Regions from separate parts of the Homo sapiens genome. Here all the other regions are linked to region 3. The links come from fine-mapping of genetic effects on gene expression. A gene starts in region 3. Each other region holds a variant in brackets. All regions are shown on one strand. Distances are from middle to middle.

Region 1 (6,516 bases), 340 kb after region 3:
TACTTGGCTGAAAGATTATCAGGAATCAGAGTGCGAGGTGAGGGTGAGGGGTCAAAGGGGTCCTGTTAATGAAGCCCACAAGCAGGAATTCCAGCTTGGTTCCAGACTCCACTAACAAATTGCTAGAGGGTTCTGAAAAGACAAAGGTCCTGGTGAGAGGTGCTTTGAGCTGGGGATTCACATTGCTGCCTCGACACACTGTTAGGGGAGAGGGAACTAGGGGTGTAAAATGTGGGAAATTGAGGACTTGGTCCAGCACAGAGCCTAGATGGGGGTGTGCCTCTGTGGATGGAAAGGAGTGAGAAGGGCAGAAAGAGTGAAAGAAAGATGAAGAAGGAGAGATTCTGGGTGTGCAGGAAGGATGGGAGGCCAAGGTTGGGGCCTGTACCACAGGTGGGTTGTGGTACCAAAACTGGTCACCTGGGGAAACTAGGGCAAGGGCATGTGTTGGTTGTGATCATGGAAATTCCTTTATTTCTATTCCCTATTAATCATTGCAGGTTAAGTTAATAAATTACATGCTCATTTGTAGAATTTGAGACTTTTCACTCTTCTGGGCAATTCTTTCATGATGGGGCATTTAAAGGTCTAGAAATTATTAGGCTTTTTCAAACATCAAATGTATGAAATCTCATTATAGTAGCTAAAGCCAGCCAGAATAACCAGGATTTCTTTCCTACTCCCAACTAACTAGGAAGAAAATCCATGGTATTTGAGTATCTTGTATAAAATTGTCTAGAAGAAAATGTTTTTCTATGTTTACCTAGAAAGATATTTGTAAATATTTGACATGACAGCTTTTATAGGGTAGTCATTGTTTTAGTTTCACATTGTCTACAATTTTTGTTTGTTGATGTTCAGCTGTTGTTTGAAAGGGCCATAGTTGGAGGAACCTACATTGAGGAAATATTGAATTAAACTATATATTATCCAGATAAATAGTGGAAGGAAATATTAGTCTAAGTTTTTTCTGGCATCTTTTCCTTCATATCAAAATTACGTAACCTAAAAATTAAGTAATGATATTTTTAGCAATATTGTATTGCAAATGTATACACAGATTATGCATTAAATCAATTTGTCTACTAGCTTAGGTGTGTAACTACACTTTCCCTGGGAAAATGTTTTCTTCAGTTAAAATAACTAAATTATACATTTCGTTCTCAATTAGAGATGTTTTTTGCAGACATGGAATAAATGAAGATCCTCTGTTGTTCTGAATCTGTGTTCATGTTTAATTTGTTAAAGAGAATTGAGACACCTTAATAACAATCATTTTAGTCTAACTGTACTGAAGAAAGTAGTATGGATACAAATACAGTCTGCTAACCCAGAGGCCATTTATCATGAAGTTTCAGTACCTAAAATGTTTCTGGAAATGAGTAAGCAGAGAAATTATCCCCAAGCAGAGAAAACAATGTCCCAAAGTCTTTTGAGTACATCTGTGCTCCACCCAGAAGGAAACCCCCTGGTTTTTAATCTCCACCCACTTAGCACTATTTTAAACATTCCAATGTTGTTGTTTTTCTCATTTCCCATCCCATAGCATATTAGGGAAAACAAATTAGAATGAGTGAGATTTTGTAGAAACAGGAATGCTAGTAACAAACAGTAAGAAGAGCAGTAGCTAACAAACTGATAGGGAGGAGACAGGAAATTTGTTAAAAAACAGGCACTGGCATTAGAAATGCCTTGCAATTTGGAACTTTTAGTGCAGGGCAAAGATCCATAGCCATAAATAGGGGTAGTCCCAGAGGACACTGCTATGATACTGTTATCTTAATAGTATCCCTGAATCATCCAGAAAAGTTCAGTTATAAGATGATTGAAATCTTTAAAAAAATGTTTTACAGTAAAAAAAAAATCAGAATCACAGATACAGGTGTATCTGGGCAGGTGTATCTTTGATTACACCTAGAGATAAGCATTTCAGTTATCTAAAATACTTTTATGAAACACTGCATTAGAAGATGAGGCTGGATAAATGAACTGTACTCATAAATACAAAACAGGATGAATTAATTTGATCTTACTGTTGGTTACTTTTCTTAACCACCCCTCTCCTTGAGTACCATTTATTTTTCCTCCCTTTCTGGCTTACCTGTACATTTTATAGATACGTACTATTTGGTGTATATGTACCGTAATACCTCCCCTGTATTCAGATTTGTAATAGGAAAGACCATTATGCTTTTTGCTCTCTATAGGATTCATCAGTCCATGTGCCCTGCCTGTCCACCGCTGGGCATTCCTTCCCCAGATGGGGCTCCATGCCCTATTCCTGTCCCTACTTGGACTGAACCTATGACTGCCAATTCTTGCTTGTCTCAAGGCAGGGTATTTAAGGCTATGGATTCCCACCCTTCCTCTCATTCTTGTAATTTTTGGTTACTGACCAAAAGAGAAACCCTTTACTGGGTATTATAGCCTTTCTATTGGCTCCTGTTACTATTAACCATACTTTCAGCTCTGTCCTTTATTCTTTGAGACTGGTGTTCCATTGTGTTCCAGTTCTCTTGTATCCCCAGTCTCATCATTTTCCAAATATAACTGAATCACAGCTCTTTCCCTCAACCTCAGGCCCATACACTGCTTATGAGAAGGTTCATCCATCCATTCATTCAACAAATATTTCAGTGTCTGTTACACGTCAAGCACTGTTTCAGGTGCCAGAGAGGTAAGAGTGCACAAAACAGAAGAACATCCCTGCCCCTAAGCAGCTTATAATATAGCGCATTCTTGGGGGCAGAGAGGGCCAGACGGTAAACAAGTAAATTTAGAATATTGGTGAA[A/G]TACATATAAATATATATAACACTGAAAAGTACGATGCAGAAAAATAAAGCAAGGTAAGGGAAGTGCGTGTTGTTGGAGTGGTGACATTTTAGCAGGGATCTGAGGAAAGTGAAGGAGTAAGCTGTGGCAGATATCTGGAGGAAAAGAACTATAGGTTGTGGGGACAGTGATTTTCAATGCCTTGAGGCAGGGCATTCTTGGTGTGTTCAGGGAAGGACAAGGGGATCAATGCAGTTGAAGCTAAGTATGAGAAGTGAGGCTGGGCATGGTGGCGCACACCTGTAATCCCAGCACTTTGGGTGGATCACTTGAGGTCAGGAGTTTGAGACCAGCCTGGGTGTGTGCCTTTAGTCCCAGGTACTTGGGAAGCTGAGGCAGGAGAATCACTTGAACCCAGGATGTGGAGGTTGCAATGAGCCGAGATCGCACCACTGCACTCCAGCCTGGGTGACAGAGTGAGACTCTGTCTCAAAAAAAAAAAAAGAAGTGAGAAGAAGGAAAGGTCAGAGGTCAGAGAGGTAGTCAGGGCCCAGATCATGTAAGGCCGTGGAGCCCATTATAAGAACTTTGACTTTTATTGTGAGTGAGGTGGGAAAATATTGGTGCATTTTAAACAGAGAAGGGACATGACTTGAGTTTTTGTTTTGTTGTTTTTAACTTGAGGAAGACATTAAAGAGGGACAAAGATGAAGTCAGGGAGACCAGCTTAGAGGCTACTGCAGCAATCCGGATAAGACAGGACAGTGGCTTGGGCCACCGTTAAAGTAAAGTAGTTGGATTCTAGAATATATTTAGAAGATAGGATTTGTTCATGAATTTTATGTAGAAAGAAATGGAGGCTTTCTTCCATATTTAAAGATCTGGGTGGACTGGCCAGGATTCCCCTATCTATCCATTGCCACATTTGAATCTAACTGTTACTTTTTCACTTCCATAGGAAAATGAAACAAAACTCTCCTTTTTTGAACATCTCACTGTTGGGCTTTGTTGCCTCTGCCTTTCTTAGTCTTCTTTGTCTCTTGTTCTTCGCTTCAATCCCACATGCCTTAGAGACTTTGACGTTTCTCCATCGTTACTCCTGCTGTTGCTCTGGGAGACTTCCACGTCCCTTCAAATGCCGACTTGTGAGCGGCCTTAAAGTTCCTTGTGTGACTCAACTGTGATAACCTTTACAGCACTGTAAAGGTCTCTGGCTGTTCAGCTCTCTTATACCTCCTTCTCTTCACTCTCTCAGAGACTATAATTTTGCCTTGGTGTCTGAATTTTTTATTTATCCTACTTCCATATTTACCTGGCAAAGCCCTAATTCCAAATTAATCCTACAGTAATCCTCTGCACGGATACCCAGGTAGTGTCTGAATTTTTTATTTATCCTACTTCCATATTTACCTGGTAAAGCCCTAATTCCAAATTAATCCTACAGTAATCCTCTGCAGGGATACCCAGGTAGCTGAACAGTGTGGTGGAAAACTGGGTAAAATGGTAAATGGATCAGTTCATGGTTTCCAGTCTTGTCTCAATCCTGACCAGCATTACTTAAGTCTTTCACTCAGTGACTCTCAATCTTGGCTGCATATTAGAATCATCTGGGAACTTAAAAAAATCCTGGAGCCCAGGCTACAGAGACCAGTTAAATCTGAAATTTGGAGGCAGGACCCAAGCATCAGTAGTTACTCATGTTCTTTAGGTGATTCTAATGTGCAACTAAGATTGAGAACCACTACTTTAAACTTGTTCTTGAAGGATTTTCAGTTTCCATTTCCCTGAAAAGCTATTCTATTCTTTCACTAATCTCTAAAAAACCCTCTACCTAACTCCGTTTTATAAACCCTTGGCAATTGATCCCACTTCCTACTTGCTAGAAAAATTGAAGCATCTATTGGTGAATCCTCTTTAATTTTTAGTCCCCATTTAGTCAACTATACATTTAATTAGGGCTTAGATAAGCCAGGCACTGTGGTAGGCATGGGACATAGAGTGGTAAATGGGACAGTTATAGTCCGTGCCTTCCTGGTGCTTATGGTCTATCCCTGCATCCAGGCAGGTCAATTAGGCAATTACTGGACATGGTACATGCTATGGGCGCATGTAGGAAGGGCCCTAATCCAGACTTAGGCTCTGGAGAAGGCTTCCTCCCCTTTACTAACTCATCTATTTCACGCCCTTCTTTCCCGTTTTCCTTCTCGGAGGAGGTATCACCCTTGCTCCAGTGGAGGGAGAATGCTGCCTTGCAGGGCTTCTGACCATCCCCCTCATTTTCTCCTCTAGACCTTCATGGGTTGTTCCTTCTTGTTTCTCTCTATTACTTCATCCCCTCACTGTAAAAATACTCCAACAGTTATCACCTTAAGACTAATAAAGCTTGATTTTGCCTCTCCTTCTTCTCTTCTAGACTTCACCACCAGGCTTCGTGAACAAGACCTGTTCAATGCCTGCTATTAATCACCTGCCTTTGCATTTTGGCTTCAGCCTTATCATTGCTTAATTTCTTCTTCCTTCCAGTCACAGAGGCTTCCAGGTTGGCTGAATTTGCTGAAGACCATTCCACTCTATGCACTGAACCTCTCTGATGCATTTGACCCTATTCATCCCTGCCTCCCTCTTCAGAATTTTTCCCACTTTTGTTTTCATGATCCTGCACGTACTGAGTTCTCCTCATGTCTTTTTGACTCTTTCTTTTTTTGTCTCCTTTGTGAGATTCCATCTTTTGGCCTTCCCCTTAAGTGATGGTATTCTCCAGGCGTTTGTCTTTAGACCACTATTGTTCTCATGCATCTATTACTGTGGTTTTCATCACCAACTAGATGTGAAGTTCCAAAAGCTGTATCCTTAGCCTTGACCTTCCTCCCAAGTGCCTGCTAAACATCTCCACCTGAATGTCCCCTGGGCTTGTCACATTGGGATTTACTTTACCAAACTATCTCTGCCCTTGTTCAGGCCTATAATGATTTCTCATTGGGATGATGGAATTAAACCCCACTCGGTCTTCTTGCTCTTAGGCTCACCCATCACATTCATCCTTTGCATAGCTGATTTGCCTATAGCTAAAGCTTGCACTAAGGGGATTCTTCTGGTACAGGCTTGGGGTTTTCAGTGGGTAGCACTCTGGTGACCTGTGTGGTTGAGCTCTTTTACATATCGAGCTTATGAATAATATTTCACCTTTTCAGCGCTTCCTATTGCCTATGCAGTGTCTTTCACACTCTTCCTCATTTGCACTCCTTTCTCAGTGCATTTGACTATCCTACAACCCCAAAGTACCCAATTCCTACTGTTCACCAAGAAATAGCTCAGTCTCACATCTTTCACAAAGCCTTCTTATCATTCACACCTTCATTTATTTATTCACTGATATTTATTAGACATTTGCATTGTTGCATTGTCCCAGGCAGCAAACAACATTCCCAAAAGGAGGAAGGTAAGAACACACCTGAAGGCATTAGAGAAGTGCTTCTCAAACTATCTGTGGTAATAGACCAACTGGGTTTTTAATTTGTTTTTTTCTTTTTTTCCCTATCGTGGATCAGTAAATGGTCCTATTGCACATAGTGAATATGCAGGTTGCACCACATGTGACTCACCTCACAAATTCAGCAACACTTGAACTGGTCTATGCCTTGTTCAACAAGCATCACATACTTGGATGTCACAGCAATGTCAAATTGCTATAAACATTTCTAAATGCTTACACTTGATTTCTGGAGTTAGCTGGTACCAATCTAG
Region 2 (8,281 bases), 22 kb before region 3:
CAGGTAGTTCAATAATATCTTCTTCAAAGTCCAATATAGAACATGTCCATTAAAAATGTAGTTTTTAAGTCATTGATTACATATTTATTATTTGCCAGTTATGTACAGATACATTGAATAAAACAGTTTAAATTGAACAACACAGACTCAGTTGGCAGGAAGAGAGGAGAAAGTGAGGAGGGTGTCCATGTGTATTAGTCTATTCTCACACTGCTATAAAGGACTACCTGAGACTGGGTAATTTATAAAGAAAAGAGGTTTCATTGACTCAGTTCCACAGGCTGTACAAGTTTCCTCAGGAAACTTACAATCATGGTGGAAGGGTAAAAAGAAAGCAAGCACATTTTCACATGGCAGCAGGAGAGAGAGAGCAAAGGGGGAAGTGCCACTCACTTTTAAACCATCAGATATTGTGAGAATTCACTATCATAAGAACAGCAAGGGGGAAATCTGCCCCCATGATCCAATCCTCTCCCACCAGATCCCTCCCCCAACACTGGGAATTACAATTCAACATGAGATTTGGGTAGGGACACAGAGACAAACTATATCATTCTGCCCTGGCCTCTCCCAAATCTCATGTCCTTCTCACATTTCCAAACACAATCATGGCTACCCAATAGTCCCTCAAAGTTTTAATTCATTCCAGCATTAACTCAAAAGTCCAAGTCCAAAGTTTCATCTGAGAGAAGGAAACTTCCTTCTGCCTATCGGCCTATAAAATCAAAAGCAAGTTAGTTAATTCCTGGGGAGACAAGCATTGGGTAAATGCTCCCATTCCAAAAGGGAGAAATTGGCCAAAACAAAGGGGCTACAGGCCCCATGCAAGTCTGAAATCCAGCAGGGCAGTCACTAAATCTTAAAGCTCCAAAATGATTTCCTTTGACTCCATGTCTCACATCCAGGCTACATTGATGCAAGGGGTGGGCTCCCAAGGCGTTGAGTAGCTCTGCCCCTGTGGATCTGCAGGGTACAGTCCCTGTGGCTGCTTTCACTGACCAGCATTGAATGCCTGTGGCTTTTCCAGGTGCATGGTGCAAGTTGTTGATGGATCTGATTCTGGGGTCTGGAGGATGGTGGCCCCTTCTCACAGCTCCACTAAGCAGTGTCCCAGTGGGGACTCTATGTGAGGGCTCCAATGCCACATTTACCCCTCTGCACTGCCCTAGTAGAGGGTCTCCATGAAGGCTCCACCCCTGCTGCTTGTATTGAGTAATACCAGCAGGCTTGTATTAGTCAATTTTTCACACTGCTATAAAGAAATATCCAAGACTGGGTAATTTATAAGGGAAAGAGGTTGAATTGACTCACAGTTCCATATGGCTGGGAGGGCTCAGGAAACTTACAATCATGATAGAAGGTGGAGAAGCAAGGACCTTCTTCACATGGCAGCAGGAGAGAGAAGTGCCAAGTGAGGACGTGCCACACTTTTTAAACCATCAGATCTCATGAGAATCCCTCACTATCATGAGAATAGCATGAGGGAAACTGCCTCCATAATGCAATCACCTCCCTCCCTCAACACGTGGGGATTACAATTTGAGATGAGATTTGTGGGGACACAGAGCCAAACCATATCAAGACTTCTGCCTGGGCATCCAGGCATTTCCATACATCCCTTGAAATCTAGGCAGAGGCTCCCAAACCTCAACTCTTGTCTTCTGCACACCCACAGGCCCAGGCTCATGAAGTCACCAAGGCTTGGGCTTGCACCCTCTGAAGCAATGGCCCGAGCTGTACCTTGACTTCTTTTAGCCAAAGCTAGAGCTGAAGCATCTGGGATGCAGGGCACCATGTCTTAAGGCTGCACGGGACCTTCAACCTGGCCCATGAAACTATTTTTCCATCCTAAGCCTCCAGGCCTGTGATGGGAAGGGCTGCTGTGAAGGTCTCTGAAATGCCCTGGAAGCATTTTCCCCATTGTCTTGGCTATTAACATTCAGCTCTTCTTTACTTATGCAAATTTCTGCAGCCTTGAATTCCTCCCCAGAAAATGGATTTTTCTTTTCTACCTCATGGTCAGGCTGCAAATTTTCCAAACTTTTATGCTCTGCTTCCCCTTTTAATATAAGTTTGAGTTTCAGGTCATTTGTTTGTTTATGCAAATGAGCACAAGCTTTTAGAAGTAGCCAGGCCACATCTTGAATGCTTTGCTGCTTAGAAATTTCTTCTACCAGATACCCTAAATAATCTTTCCAAGTTCAAAGTTTCACAGATCTCTAGAGCAGGGGCACAATGCCACTAGTCTCTTTGCTAAAGCATAGCATGAGTGACCTTTACTCCAGTTCCCAATAAGTTCCTCATCTCTGTCTGAGAGTACCTCAGCCTGGAATTCACTGTCCATAACACTATCAGCATTTTAGTTACAATCACTCAACAACTCTCCTGGACATTCCAAACTTTCCCTCATCTTCCTGTCTTCTTCTGATCCCTCTAAACTGTTCTATCCTCTGCCCATTCTCCAGTTCCAAAGTTGTTTCCACATATTCAGGTATCTTTATAGCAAGACCCCAATTCCCTGGTAACAATTTTCTGCATTAGCCCATTCTCACACTGCTATAAAGAACTACCTGAGAATAGGTAATTTCTAAAGAAAAGAGGTTTCATTGACTCACAGTTCCACAGTCTGTACAGGAGACATGGCTAGGGAGGCCTCAGGAAGTCCTCCTGCCAATCATGGCAGAAGGATGAAAGGAAAGCAAGCATATCTTCACATGGTGGCAGGAGAGAGATAGAATGAAGGGGGAAGTGCCACATACTTTTAAACCATTAGATCTTGTGAGAACTCACTATCATGAGAACAGAAAGGGGGAAATCTGTCCCCATGATCCAATCCCCTCCAACCAGTTCTCTCCCCCAACATTGGGAATTACAATTCAACATGATATTTTGGTGGGGACACAGAGCCAAGCCATATCACCATGCAATGGGGGCAGTCTGGCATATGGTATCAGCCTGGGTAGTGTAAGGAGGGCATGCATTGAGGGGTAGAAGGGGAAGTAGCACTTGCTGCCCTTGGCAGAGTTTCAGACCCCAAGGGAGGTGAAGAGGGCACTTGTATTGGAGAGGCAGCAGCGGCAAAAGAAGATGGGTTATATATAGAGACATTAACCAAATAAGGAAGTACGTGAAAGATGATGGGAGAGGGGTTTCTCATTGTCAGGGTAGGGAGTTACAGGTATGGAAAGGATGAAAACTAGAATAGACTTTGTGGTGTTGGACTGGAATTGAGGGTATTGGTATGAACTGTGTATCTGTTAAAGAAATGGACATCACAGTTTATAATCTTCCCAAAAAGAAAACTCCAAGCACAGATGGCTTCAGGGTAAATTCTCCCAAACATTTAATGAATAAATAACAATTTTACTCAAACATTTCCAAAAATAGAGCAGAAAATACAAAGATATTACAGCAAAGGAAACTACAAACCAGTATCCCTTATGAACATAGATGTAAAAATTCTAAACAAAATTTTAGAGTATCAAATACAATATATTAAAGGGATAAAAGGATAGTACGTCATAACCAAGTGGGGTTCATCTGAAAAATGTAGGATTGGTTTAACATTAGAAAATCAATCAATGGAATTCATCATGCTAATACACTAAAAGAGAAAAACATGATTATCTCAACAGATGAAGAAAAGGCATTTGACAAAATCCTGCTAAGATTCTGTTCTTAAAGATTCATCAAGCACAACCTGTGTTGAGAAGGATCATTTGAGAGGGAGGAACATTGATAATTGTCTATTCTTCCAAGATATTCAAAGCTGGGACTCCACAGCCATTATGGTTACATGTTGCTCAAGCATATATTCTAACTTTCACTTACCTCTTACCTAAATGCATTAGATTATCATTTACCTTGTTGTTTCCCAAACTCTGTTGCTTGAAACACCAGCATTCCTTGAAATATAAGGCCCTTTTTGGAACCTCAAGACGTACATTAACATATTAAAGTTCTAAGTCCCGGGAAGAAACCATATCCAAGATCTTTTTATTTCATGTGAATTTTGACCATTGCTGTCTTATCAAGGGAACTTGCTGATAGAAGCATTTTATTTTGACCCATCCATCCATTCTTGCTTATATATTATATAATATGTATAGGAGCTTGTAAAATAATAGCATGGCTAGAGCAGGCTGGGAAAACTTGGTGGAAGGGTAAACGTCCTGGACTCTTGCCTGCTGCCAGTTTACAGTAATCTTCCTTAAACACCACTTTTCTTCCAATGCTCCTCTGCCTGTATAACTTCCTACACACACCAACTCTATACCCCACCATGGAAATTAGTAA[C/T]TTTTCTTAGATATTTTTCCAATTCTTTGGTTTTAATATCTTTTAAATTCATAAAAGAATCTAAAATGCTTAATTTAGATTAATAAAAACAATATGTTGTCAAGAAAATATTTTAAAGCCACAGAAGAGATCAATGAAAAAGATAACTTTCAGTTGTCCTGGAGAAGCCCTTTAAGGGGTTTCTCTATATATACCCAGAGAAAGCAACGTGGTGAAAATGAAATTTCTACTGGTGTTTGCTAATACAGTGTTTCTTTCTATAAGCATGGAAAACATATTAAAGAGAACTGTGTCCTGTGAGAGGTGAATTTATTAAGAAGCTGGGCATCAAGTCATAAACCTACCACTGGAAAGTAAAATAAAAAGGGAAACCCAGCAGAGCATTTTCCTTTTGTGTGCTCAAGGCATTAGTGAATTATTCTTTGTGCAAAGCACTGCACATCTGGGAAGTGAATAGTTTAAATAAAGTAGTAATATATTTAAGAGCACCTTTTGAAAGTTACAATCCCCAAGGAAGATAAACCATAAGAATCCTTTCATTGCAAAAAAGAATTCATTTGTTATAACAAAGGAGCAAAATGGAGCGTGGTATGTGTAATATGCTGAATGTACAAAAAACAGCATTCTCGCTCAGTCTGATCCTGCATAAGTAATTTTTCAATTAAAGTGCCTTTTCCTCAACACTTGAAATAGTTCTTGGATGAGTTGTAAAGTACTCATGTTAACTGCATTAGGCCAATGGTCATTTAGTGTAAACAGGAACAAGATTTCAGCTAAGCTAGAACAGTGTGACAAACATTATTTTGATTCTTCCTGTGAAGCTTTAGAACAAAGCTTATAAAAGCAGAAAGATATTGAAATCAATTTACAATGATCTGGCCTTAGCTGGCAAAATCAGGCCAAGCCCTAAAATACATATGCTTTGAAGCACAAGTCCATTAGAAAATATACATTTGCATCTTAATATACTATCTATTTTGTCTTCCAGGTTCAAAAGGCAAACAAAAGGCCCAAATTATAATTATTAATGGCCTCAGAAATACATTAATATTATCTATACTAAGAACATGTATAGAGGAATAATGTTGTAAGAAAAATTGTGAAGAACACAGAATATTACATGGATTCATCAAAACTATTATTTTCTATCTTTCAGGATAGAGGCTTTCAAAACAGAAACAGTTTTAAGTTAAAGGAATCCATCTTTTCCCCCTTTTTAGAATAAAGGAAAAATTAAAGTTCTGGACATCTGAAAAGTTATATGCATTTGTACAAATAATTTTACTCCAAAGTATATTTGTCAAGAGAATGCATATTTGGTTGGGATTCAGCATCTTAATAGCATTGCTATGGTCACTGTGAAGTACATTTAAAAAATGAAAGAATCCTTGCCCTCTAAGGACTTTTTATCCTGTTAATTTTAGAATTCTAGAAATAATACCAGATATGGTTTAAAACTAAAATGTATTTTATTTTCTTGGTGAAACATACTTGTAGACATTCATATTAAGCAAATGAAATGGTCATCTTTATATCCAGACAGCACCTACCATTAGAATAACAAAAAGAACAGCTGTTTTCCTCATTAGATTACTGGCTCACTAAATTTTCATTCAGAAAAAGACAGTTTCATTGACTTCTGTCATATTCCTTTTTACTGACTAGGACTATGTCCAACAGAAATGCAAGCCTATATGCACCAAGGGATAGCATAACTATATTCACAGGAACATTATCTGTAATGCAAACTGTAAGCAACCCAGATGTCCAACATAGTAGAATGGATAAATAAGTTGTCGTTTATTTAATGGAATACTACATAGCAATGAAAATGAACAGACTGCATCTACATTCAACATCATAGATAACAAGTGAAAGAAACAAGACAAAAGAATATATAAAGTATGACCTCATTCTGTAAAGTTTCCAGACACACAACACTAAACTCTATGGTTGTATATGGTACATATGGATGCACATCCAAGTGGTAAACTGTAAAGAAAAGCAATAAATGATTACTTTAAAAGTAAGATTAGGCTGGGCACGGTGGCTGATGCCTGTAATACTAGCACTTTGGGAGGCTGTGGCGGGCGGATCACCTAAGGTCAGGAGTTCAAGACTAGCCTGGCCAACATGGCGAAAACCCATCTCTACTAAAAATACAAAAATTAGCACAGCATGGTGGCACATGCCTGTAATCCCAGCTACTCGGGAGGCTGAGGCAGGAGAATCACTTGAACCCAGGAGGCAGAGATTGCAGTGAACCGAGATTGCACCACTCTAGCTTGGGTGACAGAGTCAGACTCTCTCTCAAAAAAAAAAAAAAAAAGAAAAGTAAGATTAGAACTTACTCAGGGAATAGGAATCGAGCTTGGTGAGAGGGTTGTGACTGGAAAGAGATCCATGAGACTTCTGACATGCTAGTTAAATTCTTCTTTTCTTCTCCTCCTTCTCCACCTACTTATTTTTACCATGGGTGGCACTTACAAAGTGTATTAATTCTTACAACCATTTGTAAGCTGTATATGTCATATGTTATCACTTTCTTGTATGTTACACTTCATAGTAAAACACGTTTTTTTAAAAAAAACCCAAGGATTACTACACTAAATAATACACACACACACACACACACACGCACACACACACACACACACACACACACATACACACATTCTAATTGGCTTCAAAGAGAAAAGAAAAAATCCTGATTTTATATTAGACTTCCCTTGTTCTCCTTCTCTTCTGCTGAGCACATATTAAGTGTTCAAATGTACTTACCAACTAAAGAGATAAGAGTTTCAAAGTGCATCAAAATGTACCATTCAGTGTCATGCGTGTTATTTGAGAGCTTCAAAGACTTATGTGGGTTTTTTAGCTGATGGTGGAATTGCATGTACGTATTCCTATTGTCTCTTGTGTCTATGTTGACAACACTAGCTGATATATGACTATGCAGAAATAGTGCTTGAAAAAAATGGGCAACTTCCTGTGCTTACAGCTGTAACACAGAAGCAGCTCAACTTTGATTTTACACCTATGGCCTGCCCCTAAGTTTCCTGCTTCCATCATTACTGTGGATTCTAATCTTAGGAAAAGTCTGCCTCTTTGAAAAAACAAATATACAAACCTGAGCTAACCCAGCCATGTCAACCTATAGTATTATTTATCTGACTTAAGCCTTAATCAACCAATTTTTCTTCATGCTCCTGAATTAGTTGGGTACTAGGTTATTGTGTTACCAAATTAGCTCCCTTTCAACTACCCTGACTGAAACCTGTAACAAATTCTAATTACTGGTGATGGGATATTCTTAGAGCCTCTTTCAGCAAATATCCCAATAAAAATCTTGGTTAACAGACTGACAATATCAAACTCTGACATATTATACAAGAAAGAAACTCAGTTGACCAATTGCCCATCTCTTTACTCCAGAATGGATTTTCTAAAGGAGCACAGAAAATCTATACGGCAATTTTATTCTCCCCTCTGTAATCATTGGTATTCTCTAGCTCCTGGGTAGGTCAAAATCAATTTAACATTTAAAAGTCCCTAAGGCCATGAACAGTGGCTCACGCTTGTAATCCCAGCACTTAGGGAGGCAGAGGTGGGAGAATAGCTCAAGTACAGGAGTTCGAGACCTGCTTGGGCAACGTGGAGAGATTCCATTCTCTGAAAAAAGGGGGGAAAAAAAGATAAAAATACTTGAATCTGGTCTATGTTCTCAGAAAGTTGAATTTTATTTTTCAAAATCGATACCACTTAGTAATGTTCTGATGCAAACAATATTGAAGGCAATACAGCTCACTCTTTATCATCCAAAGGTTTATCCACAGCACAGCTTACTTACTTCAAGCAAACCTTGATCCAAAGATTGGTAAAATAATTAACAATATTCCTTAAGTCACATGTGGTCAACAGTCTGTCTACTTAATCTATCATCCAGAATCAAGGCCTTAAAGGCAAAATAATTATTTGTCTCCCT
Region 3 (7,756 bases):
CCTGGGTTCAAGCAATTCTCCTGCCTCAGCCTCCCGGGCAGCTGAGATTACAGGCATGCGCCACCATGCCTGGCTAATTTTGTATTTTCAGTAGAGACGGGGTTTCTCCATGTTGGTCAGGCTGATCTCGAACTCCTGACCTCAGGTGATCCACCAGCCTCGGCCTCCCAAAGAGCTGGAATAAGTAGCTTTTTTTTTTTTTTGAGATGGAGTTTCGCTCTTGTTGCCTAGGCAGGAGTGCAATGGCATGATCTCTGTTTGCTGCAACCTCCACCTCCTGGGTTCAAACAATTCTCCTGCCTCAGCCTGCCAAGTAGCTGGGATTACAGGCATGTGCCACCACGCCCAGCTAATTTTTTAATTTTAGTGGAGACGGGTTTCACCAAGTTCATCAGGCTGGTCTCGAACTCCTGACCTCAGGTGATCCACCTGCTTCTGCTTCACAAAGGGCTGGGATTACAGGCATGAGCCAATGTGCCTGGCCACAATAAGTAGCTTTAAAAAAAATTATTCTTCTGTATAAACTTTCAAATATCACTAAAATCTGATTATGCTAAAAAAAAAAAAATCACTGCCTGGGCACAGTGGCTCAGGCCTGTAATCCCAGCACTTTGGGAGGCTGAGGCGGGCAAATCACCCGACATCAGGAGTTTGAGACCAGCCTGTCCAATATGGTAAAAACCCATCCCTACAAAAAATACAAAAATTAGCTGGGCATGATGGTGCACGCCTGTAGTCCCAACTACTCGGGAGGCTGAGGCAGGAGAATCACTTGAACCTGGGAGGTGGAGGCTGCAGTGAGCTGAGATCGCACTACTGCACTCTAGCCTGGGCAAGAGAGCGAGACTCTGCCTCAAAATAAATAAATAAATAAAAATAAATAAATATTACATAAATGTGCCTATTAAGAAATGTTTTGCATTATGTTTCAATGGAAGTAAAAAACCTCACAAAATAAAATTTAGGGAAGAAACCAATTCCATCAAAGTAAGATGCAGGTAAGAGAACTCTCAAAGTCTTTTAGACACACTCAATTGTTATTATTAAACTATATTATTATCTTAATATTATCTGAATCTTATTCTGGTTTCACTACTTACAACTTTGACATGGGTTAGAATGAGATATAATTTTGCACCAATCAAGGGAAAAATACTTTTTAAGAAAAAAAATGGCATGGGACTGCCACAGGACTTCCATTCTCAATAGACAAAAGAATTTTATAAGGCTCTACTTATAAAATATAATTGCAATAGAGTACACTAGTGCTGAAGAGGCTGGTGGTGTGATATACTACACAGGAATTATCTTATGCAAAGGCAGGCCCTATTTCATTAACAGCATCAGGTTTAGTTAGTTTGGCTAAACTTACATGAATAATATTTTATTTCTTAAAAGTAAATAAAGCAGACCTTATTTCCTTGTTATTCTAAATTCGTATTCTGACAGACATTTGAGAGAATAAAAACCTGATTAAGGATCTTTTCAAACAAAGAAATAAGATCTTGTCCTGGAACAGTGGCTCACACCTGTAGTGCCAGCACTTTGAAAGACAAAGGCAGGAGGATCACTTCAGGCAAGGAGTTTGGGACCAGCCTGGGCAACAGAGTGAAACCCTGCCTCTAGAAAAAAATTTTTAAAAATTAGTTGGGCATAGTGGCATGCATCTGTAGTCCCAGCTACTCTAGAGGCTGAGGTGGGAGGATCGCTTGAGCCCAGGCAGTCAAGGCTGCAGTGAGCAGTGATGGACCCACTGCACCCCAGCGTGGGTGACTTAGTGAGACCCTGTCTCAAAAAAAAAAAAAAAAAAAATCACTGAAACTCATTCTCTCTAGTTGGGCTTGACTTAGAACTGAATACATTAAGCAGAAAATTAACACTGGTCATAGGTTTAAAAAATAATGAGTATGCTAAGCTGGGCATGGTGGCTTGTGGCTGTAGTCCCAGCTATTCAGAAGGTGAGGAGTGAGGATCCCTTGAGCCCAGGAGTTCGAAGAGGCAGTGGGCTATGATCGCACCACTGCATTCCAGCTGGGCCAGAGCAAGACCGTGTTTAAAAAAAAAAAAAAAAAAAAAGGCCAGGCGCGGTGGTGGCTCACGCCTGTAATCCCAGCACTTTGGGAGGCCGAGGCGGGTGGATCACGAGGTCAAGAAATCGAGACCATCCTGGCCAAATGGTGAAACCCCATCTATACTAAAAATACAAAAATTAGCTGGGCGTGGTGATGCCCGCCTGTAGTCCCAAGTACTCAGAAGGCTGAGGCAGGAGAATCGCTTGAACCTGGGAGGTGGAGGGTGCAGTGAGCCAAGATCGCAGCACTGCACTCCAGCCCTGGTGACAGAGACTCCGTCTCAAAATTAAAAAAAAAAAAAAAAAAAAAGACCTTAAGAAAACTTGCAATAATGTTTCTATCAAATACCTTACTATGCTATTTATTTAAGAAAAATGACCAAATCCAGTCCAATTTACAGATTTTAAAGCTGAAAGGGCATTGGAGATTGCCTAGTATGCTTTCCACATATCTAAGTGGAAACACACTCAGAGTGATTTATCAGAGTATACATAACATTACTGTACCACAACTGTGAATCTCAGTTCACGAGCTCAGACTTCTCTTTATGGAAAGTAGTTCACAGTATTTGAATCAATCCTGACACCACCTTTAGTTAAGGCAATGCAGACTGCAGTAAGGAGCTCCACTGTGGCAACCCCTATGCTGTTCCTGGTCTTGCAGACTGTCCTGTAACTTGAAGCTAGATGAGCAAACTTAGATTGTAAAGGCATGGTCTAGATCAGCAGTCTCCAACCTTAATGGCATCCAGGACTGGTTTCGTGGAAAACAATTTTTCCATGGACGGGGATGGGGGATGCTTTCAGGATGAAGCTGTTCCACCTCAGATCATCAGGCATTAGATTATCATAAGGAGCGCACAACCTAGATCCCTCGCACATGCAGTTCACATTACGGTTCGCACCATGAGAATCTAATGATGCTGCTGATCTGACAGGAGGCGGAACTTAGACGGAAATGCTCACTCACCCATCGCTCACCTCCTGCTGTGCGGCCCCGTTCCTAACAGGCTGCAAACCAGGTACCAGTCCGTCGTTGGGGACCCCTGGTCTAGATTACAGCTAAAGAACTACAAAGGCTTTCTCTTTATATGCCCTTCCTTCCTGCCCAAGACTTCTGGGCTTTTAACTAGGGATGCAGCACTGCAAGTATCCGGAGGCAGTAACTGGGAAAACCACCTATCATGATTAAAATAAAACACGCATTGGCCTCTGGAACGAAGGATGTTAAAATAATACATTCTGCCCACATCTTGGATTCAAGACTTGGGGAAGTTTTAGAAAAATCAGTTATCTCAAGTAAGTATTCAGTGCACACAATCCAGTGACTGAGTCTACTTTTTCTGGCTACTAAGGTACAGGCTAGGCCTAAGCAGCATAGGCTTTGAAACTATCATCCAGGTTTTCAAATAAAAAGGAGTAAGAAAACAACTGCTGGTAATACAACATTACAAACATTAACATATGCCCAACGAACAGTATCGTAGATCGTTAGATTATCTGCCAAAAGCCTGTTCCCTGGTAAATAACAGTTATTGTTGTTTTACCTAAACTAGTTAAACATGTCGCAGCTTGCTCCTGAAAGAGAACATTCTATAGTCTTTGGAGAATCAGTGAAGAGGTCTTGCAACATTTGTCAGAGGTAGTCAAACAGTGCAAGCAATCACAAAATTTGGTCACCAACCAAACCAGATTAGCTAATCTTTCAGTTCCTGTAGATTAGAAGACAATATTAACTCACCCTTTCTGCATGTTGACTTTTGCATCCCTTTATTTGTGTATTGAAAGAACAAGCACCTCTATGGGAACTCTATGCCCTGACAGTTTAATTACTTATCAAGTTTACTCTGGGCCGGTATTGATCATTCTTTCGTGAAACGAATTAGATACTTAAATTAAAAACAAACAACAAAACCCCCCTTTTCACATAGCATGGCGGCATGTCCCTTGGTAACAAGGTTGAGTGGATCCACCAAGGCCCAGTAGCTTGCCTCCTTTTCGTAAGGATGTAACTATTGTCCAACCAGAAGAGAGAGGCATGGAGTGGGATGTGCACCAGGATGAACTCGCCGGAATCGTCAAGAGTCGTTGTGTGACCCTCACCTTGACTTCGGGCGTTTTGTGGGGACCCAACTGCTTTCTTGCCGCTGCTCTTTGGTCTGAGTTTCCCTCAGCCAAACACTTCACCCACCCATGACCCTCCAACTGTCCCGCTACAGCAGGGGATGGGGGTTGTCTTCCGATCGACCTCGGGGGGCAAAGGCAAAAGTCCCTAGCTGCTTCGGAACCGCTCCTCGAGTCCTGAAGCCGCTCCACGCCTCCTCGCCCACCACTTGGTCCCCGCAGGACGTGGCAGTCTCGGGCTCCAGCCTGGAAAGGAGCCCGCCCGGGTGCCGTCACCCGCCCCGCGCGGCCTCACCTGCCGCTCCCCGGAAATCTCAGCGCTGCCCTGCCCCCGCCCCCACCCTCCCGCGTCCTCCAACTCGAGGTCCCAAGACCCACACAGCAATGGCGCAGCCGGAAACTGGGCCCTAGACTTACTCACGCCCGGCTGGCGGCTCGGGTCGCCTGTGGGCGGGACGCAAAGGCCGCGACTTCCGCCTTCCTGCTTCCGGTCTGGCGGTGAGTGGGGAGTGGGATCCGATCCCGTGGGGCTATGTAGGGGAAGTTGGTGGCTGCAGCTGCCGTGGTTTTCTCCTGGTGTCCAGCAGAAACGGCGGCGGCGCAAGGTGTGGCTGGGCCAACCCAGGATCTCCCAGGACCCTCCGCTCTGCGCGACAAGGGGCCCGCGCTTGCCAAGGCCGACGGGCAGGAGTGAACGTGGCCTCCGTGGGTCTGCAGCCCCGATAGGGTAAGGAGGGAAGAGTGAGCAAGGGAGAAACGTAAGGAATAAGGGAAAGACAAAGGAGGAAGTGCGGACGGCCGTCAAGTGCTACCCGTTGCAGCCGCAGGGGCCACGCGGGTCTGGTTGGGAGATCGAGCCTGGTCGATCCGTTTTGGGCGGAAGAGTAGGATTTATTCCTGAAAGTGTGGAGGCGCGAGCGTTTGGGTCCGAAGTTGAGTTGCAGGGAGATGTGTGGCCTGTGGACCATGGCTCTTTTACTGCAAAGTTCTTTTGCTTATTTCTGAAACTTACATTGTTTATTCGCTACTGGGCTGGAGAAGGTGAAGGCAGATCGATCTCAGTAGTACCTAATTCTAACTGTATGGGTGAGGTCGTATGAAGTCCAGGAGCTAAGATATTTAACGTATTAGGCACTTTCATGTGTGTTCAGTTGAAAATCGTGGGGAAGATATAATTAAAACTAGTCACAGTTTTCTTGGGGTAATGGGACTGTGGGTGAATTACTATAATTTGTTTGGTTATGTCTTCTAATTTTTTAAGTAAAGGACACAAATTGTATGATGGACCCAAAAAAACCTTTATAAAGAGTAAGATGAGCTGTTTGATTTTGTAGTGGTGTACCTAATCCAGTAAATAAATGAGTGGCAACATTTTTAGTATAAAAATTGAAAATCTAGGAACGGATACGCTGTGTAAGTCAGTCAGTGAGCCAACTTGTCTCCCGTATGTCAATGAACTAAAAAAATTTTATTATTGAAATAAGTAACTTAGTAAAATACTTGATTTCCAGTAATTAGGATTTTCTTACAGGGCATTTGCAATTGTAAATTCAAATGAGGAAGAAACGTATTAAGTTACTATACCGGATAGGCAATTTTAGATGTCATATAGGTTGCATATATACAATATAGAAATTTTCCATTTAAAATTTTATTACAATTATCCTGAAATTGTGACTTAAATTTTGTTTTATTTTTTGTATTCTTTCCAACTAGCCAATTGTACAGAATTTAAACCGTCTCTCAGATGTGTACAGTAGAACTCAAGAAGACAGACTACCAAGGGTCATCTGAAGTCGTGATTGGGTCACTAATAACACCAGGACAAAGTTAAGGGATCACTACTCAAGCATAAGGTAGATGATTTTTTTAAAAAAATTCCAGTTGAAATTGTAAGTGGATGTATATACACTCATTCCCTACCCAGGTATTCTAATTCTCCACTTTGAATAGCGGTTGACACAAACATGAAAGGGAGAAAAGCCTCTGGGGCAAAATAGAAAACGTCACTCAAGTCACATAATCCTCATTTGCCAGTTGCCTTTTCCTTACACTCAAAAAGGAACAAAACACATGGCATCTGTTAAGGCTACTTTCTCATTTATTAAATTAGGCTTATTCCAACAGAGGTCCTCAAAGCTGAAAGGGCATAAAATAGCACAGTACTTTTTGCTTCTTTGGCATATTAATGCGATGTCATGACTCCCTTACCCTCTCCTTCCCATTCGGGGAAATAGTCATCTCTCCTTCTCTGCGAGCATTTCACATGCTCTGTTGCTTGTCCTTTTCAAACACCAAATTTGCTGATTTGTATTTTTGTTAATTAGTAATACTAAGGATATGTCAAAAAATGACAAACTGTATTCAGCTGTTTCCTGGAATGACCACAGAAAACTCAAGATTTTTATAAAAGCCTCCTCCTAAATAAAGTTTGTCTTGAATATAGGAGGCATGTGAGAATGCATAGTCCTTATGACAGAGTCACATGGCTTTTTTAAATCTTCTATAACTTTACCTCTTTGAAGTGTCACTATTCTGGCTGTACTAGATGAATTACTTTTTCCTAACCAGAGATACTAGTCCTTATTACAATAGTACTAAGTTGTACTTTTTAAAAAAGCAAACTGAGTGATAATGGAATCCTGAGTTAACTGGTTGTGTGAGGAAACTTTTTCAAAATTTGATTAACCACATAGTCTTTTCTCCTGTTTTTTTCCTCTGTGTTCTCCACCCGCCTCCCCCAGCCCCAGTTTTCATAAGACTGCTGTGAAGATGTTTGATATAAAGGCTTGGGCTGAGTATGTTGTGGAATGGGCTGCAAAGGACCCCTATGGCTTCCTTACAACCGTTATTTTGGCCCTTACTCCACTGTTCCTAGCAAGTGCTGTACTGTCTTGGAAATTGGCCAAGATGATTGAGGCCAGGGAGAAGGAGCAAAAGAAGAAGCAAAAACGCCAAGAAAACATTGCAAAAGCTAAACGACTAAAAAAGGATTGAAGGACTGAACAGGCTTTGCAACCAGAGGAAAATCATTTGGAAAATTACACAGCTTTGGAAGAATCCACTAAAGTTTCTTCTTTGGATTTCTTGACAGTATGATTTAGTAAATGAAATTTGACCAAATGGAAGAATCATGTTAGTTCTGACCTCAATACTATAGTAACTTTTAGGCGTGGGTGTAGAAGTTTATAGGTTTCTATTGACAGTTATTGTAAATTAGCATTTACTGTGGTACAAATTCTTTATAACTGACTTAGTCATTTGCCGCTTAGCAGTTTATATACTGAAATGAAAACATCTTGTGGGGAAAAGTGACTTTAGATTATGAACTCAATTCAAATGAACTCTATTTAAAATGGGGTCCTATTTTGGACAAAGGAAATTAAGAATGTAAAAGTCAGAACAGTCTTGAGGTAAAAAGTGTGCTTTGGCTTAAAAGGGATACAGTATATTAATTACATCTTTTATTATTATTGTTTATTTCTTAGAATCATTTCTGGCTTTCTCAAAACAAAATAATATTAATGAGTACTTCTATTTGCTGCATTTTTCTTATTACAG
Region 4 (8,281 bases), 34 kb before region 3:
CTAGGCAGTTGGCGTGACCCACGGAGAGCAAGGAAAAGCAGGGTGGAGTGATGGCCCACTCAGGAGCTGCACAGGGGAAGGGGAGCTCCCAACCCCAGCCAAGAGATGCGGTGAGTGATTGTGCTACACGGCCTGGGAAAACCACACATTTTCCACAGATCTCTGCAACCCACAGATCACGATACCCCCTCTCATGAGCCCACACCACCAGGGCTTTGGTTCCCAGCACAGAGCTGTGCAGGTTCTCAGCGGACATTTCGGCTGGAGGCTGACTAAGACTACCAAGTTCCCAGGGGCTTGGGCGGCTGTCATCACTGCAGCTGCTTGCTGCCTAAGACCAACTGAGCTCCCAGGGGGAAGGGTGGCCATTATCACTGTGGCTTCCTGCTGCCTAAGATGACTGAGCTCCCAGTGGGAGGGGCAGCAGCCACCACTGCAGCTCCAGTCTGCTGGTTTTCCCCTGTGGATGCTGGGGAGATTGGGTGGTTTGGACCCAGGAGGAATTCCCCACAGCACAGCACAGTGGCTGTGGCAGATCATGGCCAGACTGACTCTTTAGGCCAGACCCTTACCCGTCCCTCCTCAACCAGTGGGGCCTCCTTGTGGGAATTTTAGCTACTCAGGCCAGGGGTTTATAGTCAGAACTCACATCTCCCTGGGACAGAGCCTCGTAGGGGAAGGGCAGCCATGGTCTCTGCGGATCAGCAGACTTAGTCTTTCCGCCTGGTGTCTCTGAGGAGTCAGGGCAGTCTGGATGAGTGGGATTTCCCCAGCACAGCACACCCTCTCCACTGAGGAGCAGCTAGAGTGCTTTGTTAAGCGGGTCTCTGATCCCATGTCTCCTGACTGGGTGAGACCCCCACAACAGGATATGCCAGACGCCCTATACAGGGGCATTCCCACTGGCATCAGGGTGGTGCCCCTCTGGGACAGAGCTCCCAGAGGAAGGAGCAGGCAGTCTTCTTTGCTGTTCTGTAGCCTCCACTGGTGACACCTCCAGGTGTGGGAGGGACCCAGGCAAACAGGGTCTGGAGTAGACTCCCAGCAAACTGAAGCAGCCCTACAGAAGAGCATTCTGACTGTTAAAAGAAAAACAAACAGAAAGCAACAAGAGCATCAACAAAAAAGTCCCCACAAGAACCCCACTCAAAGGTCAGGAGCCTCAAAGATCAAAGCTAGATAAACTCAGAAAGATGAGAAAGAATCAACAACAACAACAAAAAATGCTGAAAACTCAAAAGGCCAGAGTGCTTATTCTTCTCCAAGTGATTGCAATACCTCTCTAGCAAGGGCACAGAACTAGGAGGAGGCTGAAATGGATGAATTGACAGAAGTAGGCTTCAGAAGACGTGTAATAATGAACTTTGTTAAGCTAAAGGGGCATATCCTAACCCAATGCAGAGAAGCTGAGAACCATGATAAAACATTACAGAAGCTGTTAACCAGCATAACCAGTTTAGAGTGGAATATAAATGACCTGATGGAGCTGAAAAACCCGACACAAGAACTTCACAATGCAACTGCAAGTATCAGTAGCCAAATAGAACAGGCAGAGGAAAGAATTTCAGAGCTTGAAGACTATCTTACTGAAATAAGACAGCAGACAAGAAAACAATGAAAAGGAATGAACAAAACTTCCGAGAACTATGGGATTATGTAAAAAGACTGAAACTACGACTGATTGGGGTACCTGAAAGAGACAGGGAGAACGAAACCAAGTTGGAAAACATACTTCAGGATATCATTCAGGAGAACTTCCCCAACCTAGCAAGACAGGTTAACATTCAAATTTACAAAATCCAGAGAACCCCATTAAGATACTCCATGGGAAGATCAATCCCAAGACACATAATCATCAGATTTTCCAAGGTTAAAATGAAGAAAAAAAAGCTAAGGGCAGCCAGAGAGAAAGACCGGGCAACCTATAAAGGGAAGCCCATCAGACTAACAGTGGACCTCTCAGCAGAAACCCTACAAGCCAGAAGAGATTGGGGGTCAACATTCAACATTCTTAAAGAAAAGAATTTCCAACCCAGAATTTCATATCTGGCCAAACTAAGTTTCATAAGTGAAGGAGAAATAAAATCCTTTTCAGACAGCCAAATGCTGAGGGAATTTATCACCACCAGGCCTGCCCTGCAAGAGCTCCTGAAGGAAGCACTAAATATGGAAAGGAAAAAACATTACCAGCCACCACAAAAATACACTGAAGTGCAAAGACCAATAGCACTATAAAGGAACTACATTAACAAGTCTGCAAAATAACCAGCTAGAATCATGATGACACAATCAAATTCACAGATAACAATATTAACCTTAAATGTAAATGGGTTAAGTGCCCCAATGAGAAGACACAGAACGGCAAGCTGCATAAACAGTCAAGACCCATTAGTGTGCTGTATTCAAGAGACACATGTGCAAAGACACACATAGGCTCAAAATAAAGGGATAGAGGATAATTTACCAACCAAATGGAAAGCAGATAAAAGCAAGGATTGCAATCTTAGTTTCTGACAAAACAGATTTTAAACCGACAAAGATTGAAAAAGACAAAGAAGGGCATTACATAATGGTAAAGGGTTCAATTCAACAGGAAGAGCTATTTTAAATACATATGCACCCAATAAAGGAGACCCTAGATTCATAAAACAAATTATTAGAGACATACAAAGAGACTTACACTCCCACATGATAATAGTGGGAGACTTTAACACCCCATTATCAACATTAGACAAATTATTGAGATAGAAAATTAACAAAGATATTCAGGTCTTAAACTCAGCCCTGGATCAAGTGGACCTGATAGATATGCACAGAACTCTCCACCCCAAAACAAGAGAATATGCATTCCTCTCAGTGCCACATGTCACGTACTCTAAAATCGATCACATAATTGGAAGTAAAACACTCCTCAGCAAAAGCAAAATAATCTTTTTTTTGATGAACTGAAATCACGACAGTCTCTCAGAACACAGCACAATCAAATTAGAACTCAAGATTAAGAAACTCACTCAAAACCACACAATTACATGGAAATTGAACAACTGCTCCTGAATGACTCCTGGGTAAATAATAAAATTAAAGCAGAAATCAAGAAGTTCTTTGAAACCACTGACAACAAAGAGACAATCCACCAGAATCTCTGGGACATGGCTAAAGCAGTGTTAAGAGGAAAGTTTATAGCACTAAATGCCCACATCAAAGACTAGAAAGATCTCAAATTGACACCCTAACATCACAATTAAAAGAACTAGAGAATCAAGAGCAAACATACCCCAAAGCTAGCAGAAGACAAGAAATAACCAAGATCAGAGTGGCACTGAAGGAGAAAGAGACATGAAAAACCCTTTGAAAAATTAACAAATCCAGGAGCTCTTTTTTGAAAAAATTAATAAAATGGATAGACTGCTAGCTAGACTAATAAAGAAGAAAAGAGAAGAATCAAGTAGACACGATAAAAAATTATAAAGGGGATATCACCACTGACCCCACAGAAATACAAACAATCATCAGAGAATGCTATAAACACCTCTATGTAAATAAACTAGAAAATCTAGAAGAAAGGGAGAAATTCCTGGACATATACACCCTCCCAAGACTGAGCCAGGAAGAAGGTGAATTCTTGAATAGCCCAATAATGAGTTCTGAAGTTCAGGCAGTAATAAATAGCCTACCAACCAAAAAAAGTCCAGGACCAGACAGATTTACAGCTGAGTTCTATCAGAGATACAAAAAGAAGCTGGTACCATTTTTTTCTGAAACTATT[C/G]CAAACCACTGAAAACCCATTTTATGAGGCCAGCATGATCCTGATACCAAATCCTGGCAGAGATACAACAAAAAAGAAAACTTCAGGCCAATATCCCTAATGAATATTGATGCAAAAACCCTCAATAAAATACTAGCAAACCAAATCCAGTAGCACATCAAAAAGCTGATCCACCACGATCAAGTCGGCTTCATCCCCAGGATACAAGGCTGGTTCAACATACACAAATCAATAAACATAATTCATCACATAAACAGAACTAAAGACAAAAACCACATGATTATCTCAATAGGCGCAGAAAAGGCCTTTGATAAAATTCAAAATCCCTTCGTGTTAAAAACTCTCAATAAACTAGGTATTGATGGAACATACCTCAAAATAATAAGAGCCATTTATGAGAAACCCACAGCTAATATCATATTGAATGGGCAATAGCTGGAAGCATTCACCTTGAAAACAGCACAAGACAAGGATGGCCTCTCTCACCACTCCTACTCAACATAGTATCGGAAGTTCTAGCCAGGGCAATCAGGCAGGAGAAAGAGATAAAATGTATTCATATAGAAAGAGAGGAAGTCAAACTGTTTGCAGATAACGTGATTCTGTGTCTAGAAAACCCCATCGTCTCAGCCCAAAGATTCTTAAGCTGATAAGCAACTGCAGCGAAGTCTCAGGATACAAAATCAATGTGCAAAAATCACAAGCATTCCTATATGCCAACAACAGACAAGCAGAGAGCCCAAACATGAATGAACTCCCATTCACAATTGCTACAAAGAGAATACAGTTAACAAGGGAAGTGAAGGACCTCTTCAAGGAGAACTACAAACCACTACTCAAGGAAATCAGAGAAGACACAAACAAATCGAAAAACTCATCGATAGGAAAAATCAATATCATGAAAATGGCCTTACTGCCCAAAGTAATTTATAGATTCATTGCTATTCCCATTAAACTACCATTGACATTCTTCACAGAATTAGCAAAAACTACTTTAAAATTCATATGAAACCAAAAAAGAGCCCATATAGCCAAGACACTCCTAAGCAAAAAGAAGAAAGCTGGAAGCATCATGCTACCCAACTTCAAACAAAACAGCACGGTACTGGTACAAAAACAGACACATAGACCAATGGAACAGAATACAGAACTCAGAAATAAGACTGCACATCTACAACCATCTGATCTTTGACAAACCTGACAAAAATGAGCAATAGAGAAAGGATTCCCTATTTAATAAATGGTGCTGGGAGAACTGGCTAGCCACATGCAGAAGCCTGAAACTGAAGCCATTCCTTACACTTTATCCAAACATTAACTCAAAATGAATTAAAGACTTCAATGTAAAACCCTAAATTATAAAAACCCTAGAAGAAAATCTAGGCAATACCACTCAGGAGATAGGCACAGCCAAAGATTTCAGGATGAAAACATCAAAAGCAATTGCAACAAAAGCAAAACTTGACAAATATGATCTAATTAAACTAAAGAGCTTCTGCACAGCAAAAGAAACTATCATCAGACTGAACAGACAACCTGCAGAATGGGAGAAAACTTTTGCAATCTATCCATCTGACAAAGGTCTAATATTCAGAATTTACTTGTAAATTAAACAAATTTATAAGTAAAAAAAACTGCATTAAAAAGTGGGCAAAGGACATGAACAGACATTTCTCAAAGGAAGACATTTATGTATCCCACAAACATGAAAAAAAGCTCAACATCACTGATCATTAGAGAAATGCAAATCAAAACCACAATGAGATACCATCACACACCAGTCAGAATGGCCATTATCAAAAAGTCAAGGAACAACAGATGCTGGTGAGGCTGTGGAGAAACAGGAATGCTTTTACACTGTTGGTGAGAATGTAAATTAGTTCAACCATTGTGGAAGATGGCATGGCAATTCCTCAAAGACCTGGAACCAGAAATACCATTTGACACAGCAATCTCGTCACTGGGTATATACCCAAAGGGATATAAATCATTCTATTGTAAAGATACATGCATGTGTATGTTCACTGCAGCACTAATCACAATAGCAAAGACACGGAATCAATCCAAATGCCTATCAATGATAGACTGGATAAAGAAAATGTGGTACATATACACAATGGAATACTATGCAGCCATAAAACGGAACAAGATCATGTCCTTTGCAGGGACATGGATGGAGTTGGAAGCCATTATGTTCAGCAAACCAACACAGGAACAGAAAACCAAACATCACATGTTCTCACTTATAAGTGGGAGCTGAACAAGGAGAACACATGGACGCAAGGAGGGGAACAACACACACTGGGGCCTGTTGGTGGTGGGGGTGGAGAGCATCAGGATAAATAGTTAATGCATGCAGGGCTTAATACTTAACTAATGGGTTGATAAGTGCAACAAATCACCATGGCACATGTTTATCTATGTAACAAACCTGCATGTCCTGCACATGCATCCTGGAACCTAAAATTAAATTAAATTAAATTCAAATAAAAAAAATTAAAAAATCCATGCAGATGAACCGCACATACTTTCTTCAGCTTTTTTTTTTTAATTGAAAGCAGGCATAGCATACTTTTGCCATGTGAAAAAGAGTAAAGGAATTGGCTGAAAACCAATTGGTTGAAATAATAGATTAATTGATAGGATAAGTTTTAGGCAAAGTATACTCAGATATGAGTTTTCATTATTTTGTACTACATATTTCTTTTATTTTTAGTTAGTTCTGATATTGTTTAAAAATTATTTTTAATTTTTATTTTAACTAAATTTACCGATTTTATAAGCAGTTTAGGGAGTCAAACAACCTTAACAATCTTGTTATAAATAAATATCAACTTATTTTCTCACTCCCAACTCCACCACTGTACCTCCAGGCAACCATTTTGAACCCTGGTAGCAGATTCTCTTTCTTTACGTTTTTACTTCAAATAATGATTATTATATGATTTCTTCACTTTTCCATTTTAGCCATTATCTGCTGATTTCCCAGTATAGAAGATGAAGATTTGCTTATCTTTTGCATCCTGTTCATCCACATAAATACACACTTTTAATTTTAAATTTTGGCTCTATGGACAATTTTAGTTAGATCACCATTCAGTATTCATTCACATTACTTAAATGCTATCCTCACCTGTGCCACATAATATACTATATTTCCTTTCCTGCATAAGTTTTTTCTTTTTATTGAAACTGAGATACACAGATTTGGATTAATTATAATTTATAACATATACTTATCATTGGTTTATGTATGAACTTCTTTTAGTTATAATATTTAACTAAAATATTTAAATAATGTAATTAGCTCCCTTGACCCGACATCTCAGATGAAACCTAGAGACTTGGAAATAACCTTCATCTACCATCTTCTCCTCACACACAGCCTATCTTGTTTTTATCATGTCCTTACTTACCTTTTTTTTTTTTTTTTTTTTAATCACTCTTGCTCAGGCTGGGATTACAGGTGTGAGCCACTGCACCCGGCCCTTACTTTCCTTTTTATATAACTTTATTGCATCTACATATATTCCTACATATAGGGATACACAGAGTTAGTAGATGAAAAGTATGTTTTGGACCTCCCCCAAAAAAGTCATTATATGAAGAAGACATGCACACATATATATAGCAGCACAATTCACCAATTGCAAAAATATGGAGCCAACCTAAATGCCCATCAACCAATGAGTGGTTAAAAAAATGTGGCATATAGGACAGGCACGGTGGCTCATGCCTGTAATCCTAGCACTTTGGGAGGCCAAGGTGGGGGTGTATCACCTGAGGTCAGGAGTTCAAGACCAGACTGGCCAACAAGGTGAAACCTCATCTCACTAAAAATACAAAAATTAGCCAGGCGAGGTAGCACGTGCCTGTAGTACCAGCTACTCGAGAGGCTGAAGCAGGAGAATCGCTTGAACCTGGGAGACAGAGGTTGCAGTGAGTCAAGATTGTGGCACTGCACTCCAGCCTGGGCAACAGAGCAAGACTCCATCAAAAAAAAAGGAAAAAAAAGTGGTATATAGACTACTCATACTCAGTCATAAAATGGAATGAAATAATGGCATTTGCAGTGACTTGGTTGGAGCTAGAGGCCATTATTCTAGGTGAAGTAACTCAGGAATGGAAAACCAAACATCACATGTTCTCACGTATAAGTGGGGGCTAAGCTGTGAGGATGCAAAGGTATAAGGATAATGTAATGGACCTTGGAGACTTGAGGATAAGAGTGAGAGCAGGGTGAGGGATAAAAGACTACACATTTGGTACAGGGTACACTGCTTAGGTGACAGGTGCACCAAAATTCTAGAAATCACCAATAAAGAACTTACTTACTTAACCAAAAACCACCTGTACCCCAAAAACTATTGAAAATGTTTTAAGTAAGTTTTGGGGGTTCACTTGAATGGCAAACTTTGTAATTAGAACCAACCCTTTCACTGAGAACAAGTTGAAAAACTAGACAAAATATTTTTAAAATTTGCTTGAAATTATCAGAGAGATAACAAAACAGTG

What was found. PIP is the estimated chance that this variant, and not a neighbour inherited with it, causes the effect.
Region 1: its variant is the best candidate, but not a certain one, in a credible set for the expression of SMIM15 in whole blood (TOPMed, PIP 0.73).
Region 2: its variant is the best candidate, but not a certain one, in a credible set for the expression of SMIM15 in whole blood (INTERVAL, PIP 0.83).
Region 4: its variant is the best candidate, but not a certain one, in a credible set for the expression of SMIM15 in whole blood (INTERVAL, PIP 0.61).

The regions. Positions count from the first base shown.
Region 1 is chr5:60,821,721-60,828,236 of GRCh38, reverse strand. The region is part of intron 1 of ELOVL7 (ELOVL fatty acid elongase 7); the gene reads left to right. Among named protein-coding and RNA genes, the nearest start is that of ELOVL7, 19 kb to the left of the region's middle. RefSeq lists a silencer at 5,849-5,908. The variant A/G (reference allele first, on the strand shown) is at 2,793.
Region 2 is chr5:61,181,597-61,189,877 of GRCh38, reverse strand. All of the region lies in intron 3 of SMIM15-AS1 (SMIM15 antisense RNA 1), which reads right to left. Among named protein-coding and RNA genes, the nearest start is that of SMIM15, 23 kb to the right of the region's middle. RefSeq lists an enhancer at 1,663-2,178. The variant C/T (reference allele first, on the strand shown) is at 4,297.
Region 3 is chr5:61,159,383-61,167,138 of GRCh38, reverse strand. SMIM15 (small integral membrane protein 15) reads left to right here and starts at 4,671. Exons shown (of 3, transcript NM_001048249.4): 1 at 4,671-4,922; 2 at 5,912-6,051; 3 at 6,940-7,756. The coding sequence starts at 6,968. The coding sequence ends at 7,192. It overlaps SMIM15-AS1 (SMIM15 antisense RNA 1), which reads right to left and starts at 4,823. Exons shown (of 4, transcript NR_109908.1): 1 at 4,613-4,823. RefSeq lists enhancers at 3,983-4,042, 4,083-4,182, 4,713-4,972, 5,043-5,122, 4,608-5,504 and a silencer at 4,423-4,532.
Region 4 is chr5:61,192,859-61,201,139 of GRCh38, reverse strand. All of the region lies in intron 3 of SMIM15-AS1 (SMIM15 antisense RNA 1), which reads right to left. Among named protein-coding and RNA genes, the nearest start is that of SMIM15, 35 kb to the right of the region's middle. The variant C/G (reference allele first, on the strand shown) is at 3,767.